2 linked regions of the Homo sapiens genome follow. The protein of the gene in region 1 purifies or fractionates together with the protein of each later gene. This does not show direct contact. Each region holds a gene or a part of one and is shown on either strand. Other genes may lie near its edges. The genes, in order: BICD1 and DYNC1I1.

Region 1 (3,830 bases):
GATCACTTGAGCCAGGATGGTTAGTTAAGGTTGCGGTGAGCTGTAACAGCACCACTGCACTCCAGCCTGGGTGACAGAGAGAAACCCTGTGTCAAAAACAACAGAAACTCATGTAACTTGAGCATCAATTTCACCCTCTAAAACTGCTCTGCCCCATAATACCTTCCTTTGTAAATAGAACCACCTCCTATCCAGCCTGAGAAGATTCTCAGCTCCACTGTCTTCCTCACTTTCCACATATAGTAACATCCAATGCCTGTTCCACCCTACCTCCCAAATAGCTCTTAGACGTGCCCCCTCCTCACGATCCCTACTGCCACTGTCTGTCCCACCACACAGCCTCAATCCACCCACTATGACCATCACCATAACCTTCTATACTGCACTTGTAGACTTGGCAGAGATATTTCATATTCAAGGTAGTATGATGCAGTGAAAAAAAAGTGGGCTTCTTCCAAGTTTCATCGTTTAGTTTTGTGGCCCTGGGAAGAGACCTAAACCTCTCTAAGACCCAGTTTCCTCTTCTGTATAATGCAAGAAACACCTACCTTGAGTAAGGATTGCTGCATGAATTAGAGGTGAGGCTTGTAAAGAACCTAGTTCTAAATGGAGCCTTGTACCTAAGTCAATGCTTTATTATTTTTATTATCTTCTTATCAGTAAAAATGAGCAGTAAGCCCTCTGAATTGTTTTGAAGACTGGTGAGATTAAACACAGTGACTGTTTCATTTATTTTCAATGGCTCCACATCCCCAAGACAAAATGTGGCCATGGCCCTTTCACAATTGCATCTCCTGCCACTTGACTTTACGTGCATTCTCCTTTAGCGTAATGAATTATTTAATACTAAGACTATGCAGCCCTTCATGCCCTCCTCTCCTCAAAGCCATAATTACAGGTGGAATCTTATGTGTGGGCAAGTCCTTTATGTATATTTCAACATGCAAGTAATTAATTACCGTATTTTCAAATTTGGAAAGCAATATCCATGAGTACAACTATATTTAAGGGGATGATAGGGCAAAATATTTGCAAGCAGAAAGTTCTGAAGAAACCTTCAAACCATCGCTGTCATACATGTTCACATAAACATGGGGAATGTGATAAAAGATGATAAATTCTTGCTAAGTTATATCTGAGAAATAACTTCGCCAGAGACGAAATCTTGATTTCAAATAAAAAGAAGGGGCTGGGCGTGGGGGCTCACGCCTGTAATCCCAGCACTTTGGGAGGCTGAGGCAGGCGGATCACCTGAGGTCGGGAGTTCAAGACCAACCTCACCAACATGAAGAAACGCTATCTCTACTAAAAATACAAAACTGGCCAGGTGTGGTGGCGCATGCCTGTAATCCTAGCTACTCGGGAGGCTGAAGCAGAAGAATCACTTGAACCCAAGAGGCAGAATTTGCGGTGAGCCGAGATCACACCATTGCACTCCAGCCTGGGCAACAAGAGTGAAACTCCATCTCAAAAAAAAAAAAAAAAAAAAAAGGGATAGTGCAAGTTAGAGCAACTGGGTCCAGAAAAAAAGAAATGTGATTGAAAGCGATGATGTTTATTTGTTGAGGTTGTTTGTAAACAGTTTCCAAAAGCATATCTTAATGTATTTTAGATTTTAAGATTAATTTGATAATAAATGTAAATATTTTTTCTTTAAAAACATCGAGACCATCCTGGCTAACAAGGTGAAAGCCCATCTCTACTAAAAATACGAAAAATTAGCCAGGTGTGGTGGTGAATGCGTGTAGTCTCAGCTACTCCGGAGGCTGAGGCAGGAGAATGGCGTGAACCCGGGAGGTGGAGCTTGCAGTGAGCCGAGATCACACCACCGCACTCCAGGCTGGGTGAAAGTGCGAGACTCCATCTCAAAATAAAATAAAATAAAATAAAAAAATAAAAACAATGAGAGAAGTTAAAAATCATAGTTCAGATAGATCAATTAAGTATTAACTGTCTCTTTATGTTTATTCATAGATTGGAAAAGAAATCTGGGGTTTTTCTTGCCATATGATTTTGTGATTTAGAACTTAAAGATATAAAAGAAACTAACAATCTTTCTAAGCATCTGAAGGGAAAACAATTCTGCTTAAAGATGAATCTAGGTAATTTAAGTGGCATTCATCAGGTCACCAATGTGACAAGCTCTAAAACTGTGTAAGTACATATTTTTGTGTTGAATGATTTAACTATAACCCTGAAAAAGAATAGAGTTGGCTCCAAAAGAAAAAGCTGCCCAATGTCCAGAAAGTGCTTCTTCAGCAGCTGGTAACTATCCTTGGTGTCAGGGTTGACAAAATAAGCAAGAAAATGGGTTGAAGCTCATTAGTGCATAGTTTACGGTATCCAAGCTGCAAAACTTTTCTAAAGCTGTCTCACAGATACATTTCCTTTTTAAAATGCCATCAGTAATGCTGAATCATTCCTTTCTAAGGGGCTCTTTTTCAACTTTACAACATTTTAAATTTCAACCATTTTTAAGTTAAAAAAAAACTCTTTTTTTTTATTATTATACTTTAAGTTTTAGGGTACATGTGCACAACGTGCAGATTAGTTACATATGTATACATGTGCCATGCTGGTGTGCTGCACCCATTAACTCGTCATTTAGCATTAGGTATATCTCCTAATGCTATCCATCCCCCCTCCCCCCACCCCACAACAGTCCCCAGAGTGTGATGTTCCCCTTCCTGTGTCCATGTGTTCTCATTGTTCAATTCCCATCTATGAGTGAGAACATGCGGTGTAAAAAAAACTCTTAAGTTTAGATCCAAGGTATTTTTATATATGTATATTTTTAGTTTTCAGGTTATTTTGGAGCTATGACTCTTCTTCAAACACTATTCTGGCCTGGGTGACAGGCGCACAGTGCTGATTTACGTACATCCCAAACATATAATCAGCCAGGCCCTGAACATAACTGGGCATGGGTGACCCTCACTCAGGTCACTGAAGAGCAAGTGTTACTTGTGAAATCACAAAACCAGACTCAAGTATTCTAGTGGACATACTGCTCTGTCCAGCTGCCCAAAGAATCATGAAAAGGAGAACACTTTGATGATGTCAGAAGTCATCCTTTTTTCAAATCCTTAGTACTATTCTTTCAAGTGTGTTCTTCTGTGAGCTGAATTACAGTAGTCCATGCAGAGCACTAAACAACATCAGGCCAGGTCAAAAAACAATTGAGTTGAGGGAAGAAATAACTAGGAAAAAAATTTAATGAATTTCATCTTCTTGATTTTGCACATCTTTAGGCAACACTGCCGACTTGCATTATTGTCACAGCAGTACCTAGCCTGGGAAGGAAGGTAGCAACATTGGTGGGTACTGACTCTGGAAAACAAAATGATCTGCAAAGACTGAGCCATGTTGCTATACTGCAAATTACTAATGTCCAATTTGGACTTAATACAGTAGTTTTCTGTTGACATTCCCATAAACTGGTTCAATTATTTTTAAATAAATCATATTTGTTCAAAAATCCTAGAAATAAGCAAAGATTTATTTTATGCTTGGCTTTATAGATATAATGCAACATCATTTACTATACATACCTGATGAGCAAAACTTTCTTTTGAAAAATCAAAACACTCACAAAATATTTTTCAAAACTGAGGTGTTGGAACACCTCAGTTTGCACAATTATTTTGGATTTACTTTTCATACAAGAAATGTTACTTGAAATCAATTTAACTCATTTAAGTTATATTTCCAACTAAAGTATATTCTATGTTTAAAGAATAAAAATAATAGGCCTCACTATCAAATAATCAACTATAATAATTTTATTACCTAAAATACATTTTTATATAACTGTATAAACCAGTTTTTTA
Region 2 (3,830 bases), on another chromosome or scaffold:
AAATGCTATATTTAAAATATTCATGTGCATGAGGTTATAAATATGACAAATATGTAGGAATTGTAGAATCCTAATATTATGTCACTAAGAATAAAAACGAGCTCAGTTATTAAAACATTTGGGCCTCTGGAGCACCAATAAATGTCAATGTGCTTAGCAAAATTTGGAATCATGAGCAAAGTGTGGCAGTGCGTGTTCCATGTAACAGGCACTCAAAAATTATGCCCAGTGAAACTGCTAAGAGCAGTTCCACACATGATCATTTAAATTTGTTCTAATGAACCCGAGGAACTGATCTTTGAAGTGGCCCCTGGTGAGACTCCACTTGCTCTTAACAGCATCCTGAAAGGATTTATAGGGTGCAAAATGAGGACCTTGTTTAATTTATGGAAGTGGATTTGCACCTTCTCTATGTTAGGTGAAAAATAGCAATCCCCTGCTTCTCCCCCATAGACCTATATGACCCATTTAGAATGACTACAAAGCCAATGCCTGCTACGTTACAATGTTACTAAGGTCTGTATTTTATATTTCAGATGGATGGACCAATGTAAAGCAAAATTCAGCTTGTTGTAAAAAGATTTGTGGTGTGTGCCATAGGGACCCTTCTTTTGAACCAAAGTGCATATTCTGATAGTGCTTAGAAAGTACAGTAGCCACAGAACAAGAATGTTCATCATGTAAAATGTTATTCACTTTATAGCAATGAAAAAAATCTGGAAATTATCAATGAATGTATTCTATAGCCTTCGTAGATAATCAAGGACCTAGGTAAAACCATGGGTTAAGTTAACTGAACCTATGCCATGTTGATTCTAATACGCATATAGATAAAGCTGTGACTCCAGGTCTGGCCTACTATACTCTCTATGCCTCTCATGCCACTTAAGACATTCTACTCATGTTCCAGATATTTGTGTATTTATCTTTCTCACCGTCATCAGTTATTTTGAAGAGAGAAACCAGGTTTACATGACGTCTGCAGGCCTTGCAGAACCTAACAATGCACTTTGCTCAAAGTAGGCATACAACAAATATATTTATGAATGAATAACTTTATCAAATATTTTTATGCTTTGATAAAGCTTTAATGTGTGGTTTTAGCCAGGGTTTATGAAGGAGGATCATTGGGAATGGACTGTGAGGCATATCTTCCTAAGTCATCTTTGAATCATGTGAGGGGACAAATACTGCTTGTTTCTACGTGCAGAACAGCAGGAACATAACAGCTTGTATAGTTTGAATGGAAAAAGTCACATAGCTGAGCCATGGATGCTTGTCATTTCTACAAATCACAAAAACACAGGGATATGAACTTGGAACAATTTGTGGTTCTTCATTAAATCTTAATAGCCTCGGATGAGTGCAAGAGATGAAAAAAAATCAATGGAATAAGAACTACTAAAGTAAAAGACAAATTAAGCACCAGTGTGAACATAGTGACCCTTTCAAAAGACATGAGGCCACCTGTTAAGTTTTGCATGCAATTTTACAATCTAGTCCAAACTATTGGATTCCACTTTATACTGACAACTCTTTTCCAGGGGCATTGTGAATCTCTCAGTTAAGGTAGAGTTCTTATCACCTGGGAACTGCATGGTGGTTTGTGTGACTCACTCTGTTCTGACCCATCTGACTGGGAGGAAAGCTTTTAAGGCACTTCTTTAGATTGGATGGATTACATTATATATCATTTCTTTATCCCCAATATATATTTTTAGCTCCTCACTTACTATGTCCTAGGTACTGTGCAGGAAATCAAAGATGAAATGGAAATAATGTAGTAAGAGAAAAATGGCAGATGAATGAATAAACTAAAATACGATTAATGCTATTATAGAAGCATAAGGAAAATATATGAAATTGTCAACTTGACAGCCTATAGTCCTATCCCACTTATTCTACTTTAATTTTCTCCATTGCACTTACCATCCTAAACTATATATTTATTTGCTTATTAGTATTTTACCCTCAACTAGAATATGAACTCTAGGTCTGTCTTGTTCTTTAATGTATCCTTTTGATGATGCCTGGCACATGGTAGGTTCTTAGTAAATATTCCTTGGAAGAGTGAATGAATAAGAGAATTGAAAATTCTATGGGACTTAAAGGTGGGAGTGGTTTTCTTTGCCCAAGAGTCAGAAAATGTTTCACATGGAATGATCTCTGTGCTGGCTCTTGAATGATGAGGAGGAATTAACCAGGCCAAAAAGGGAGAAATGCTAGAACTGGTAAAAGAAGTTGAGTATGCAAACTCATTGAGGCATGGAGGGATAAGAAATATTTGGGGATTGTTATCTCTGATGGGCACATGGCTAGACCCTGAAGGTATGCGGAGATGCTGGGAAGGTGCAAGTGGTCTGTTATGATAGGCTCAGAAGCTCGAGCTTTTTTCCCTCAAGGCAGTGTGAACCACCACAGTCTTATGAACAGCTAATGACCAGAGCAGATGCAGCTCTTTAAGATAATGAAGAGTTGAAGTCGTGCTTTCCATTTTTCCAGAGATGCTTTCTCATAATGCAAGGTGGTTAAAATCCAGAATGTGATAACAGACTTTCGGAAATGAAGAACATGTCATCAGTAAAGAAACAGAAAAATCACCTTCCATGACGACAAGCCGTGTAGACTGTACCTTCCTCACTGCCAACCACGAAGTTATTGACGTCTCCCGTTGGGAAAGCCATTCCGGTAACAGCGACAGGCTTGGACTTATTGTACACCAGCTCCATGCTCTCCTACCAAAACACGGTGTGGTTACATTTCCATCTGTCAACTCCTTGCCATGCCAAAGATAGCACGGAAAAATCATTTGGCTAAATCATGTGTTTGCTTTTCACACAGCGTTACAAAAGACCCCGGCTGTGCCAGAAACCATGCTTTACTGCCCCTGACATTCATGCTTCTGTGGATCTCTGGTTTCAAGCCGGCTGGATTTCATCAGCATGTGCTGCTGCTTCTTAAGTCAGGCAAAGATGACAGGTGAGAATTTTGAAACTAATGGTGCAGAAACTAAAGATAATAATGGTTACACTTGTCAGCTCCAAGCTTTAATAAAACACACAATACCCTTGTATTTACAAACATTTTCAAAATCAATTGTTTGTGAGAATACACATGTATTAATATCAGATGTACTAAGCAAATTTGTCAAAGCAGGAGTATGTGTCCTCCATGGACTAAAACCAGAAAGTTGTCACTCAGGTCATAAAAACCAGATTTCAACAGGGACTAGATTTCATGCAGGGCAGCCATTGGGTGAATAGGCTATAAGCCTGAAAAGAACAATATTTAAATACGTCTTTAAAATAGCAAATGGGAGTCTTTATTTTATAATATGATTTTTTAAAATTGAGAATTAAAGATTCCTAATCTTAAAAGATATACTGCTGAGTTAAGTTTAATGACAGAAAAGAATAATCAATTATAACTAATATCCCTGAGTATTTCTGGCTATTTACATCAAATAGCCTATTTTGTGCATCTGAAATAATTTTTAAAAAATCATTCTGAGGTATCATATCATTATAGTTGCTTGAGAGTTTAGTCTTTCTTGTGCAAATAAACTATTTCAGCCAAGGAGTCCATTAAATTGAAAGTGCAAGCTAACAGTCTAAGCAACACAGACTGATTCTGATCCTGTGATGTGTTCAAAGTTTGTGATATCCACACATAGGGTGCACATCAGCAACTGGGATAAAGGAGAGGATGCTGTGACTATGTCATACAGATAACTGGATCATCCAATGATCTGCTTCATCACTAAAATTAGCAGCAAGGAAGGAAAAGTCCCTTTACCCATTTGGGAGAGAGAAAGACCAGGCCAACTGTTG

The links.
Region 2: the proteins of BICD1 (region 1) and DYNC1I1 purify together in Homo sapiens (co-immunoprecipitation; one study listed by IntAct). This does not show direct contact.

The regions. Positions count from the first base shown.
Region 1 is NC_000012.12:32,109,663-32,113,492, reverse strand, and holds part of BICD1 (protein bicaudal D homolog 1), read right to left. Parts: intron 1-3,830. UniProt on the Homo sapiens protein: Regulates coat complex coatomer protein I (COPI)-independent Golgi-endoplasmic reticulum transport by recruiting the dynein-dynactin motor complex.
Region 2 is NC_000007.14:96,034,524-96,038,353, reverse strand, and holds part of DYNC1I1 (cytoplasmic dynein 1 intermediate chain 1), read right to left. Parts: intron 2,736-3,830; coding exon 2,602-2,735; intron 1-2,601. UniProt on the Homo sapiens protein: Acts as one of several non-catalytic accessory components of the cytoplasmic dynein 1 complex that are thought to be involved in linking dynein to cargos and to adapter proteins that regulate dynein function.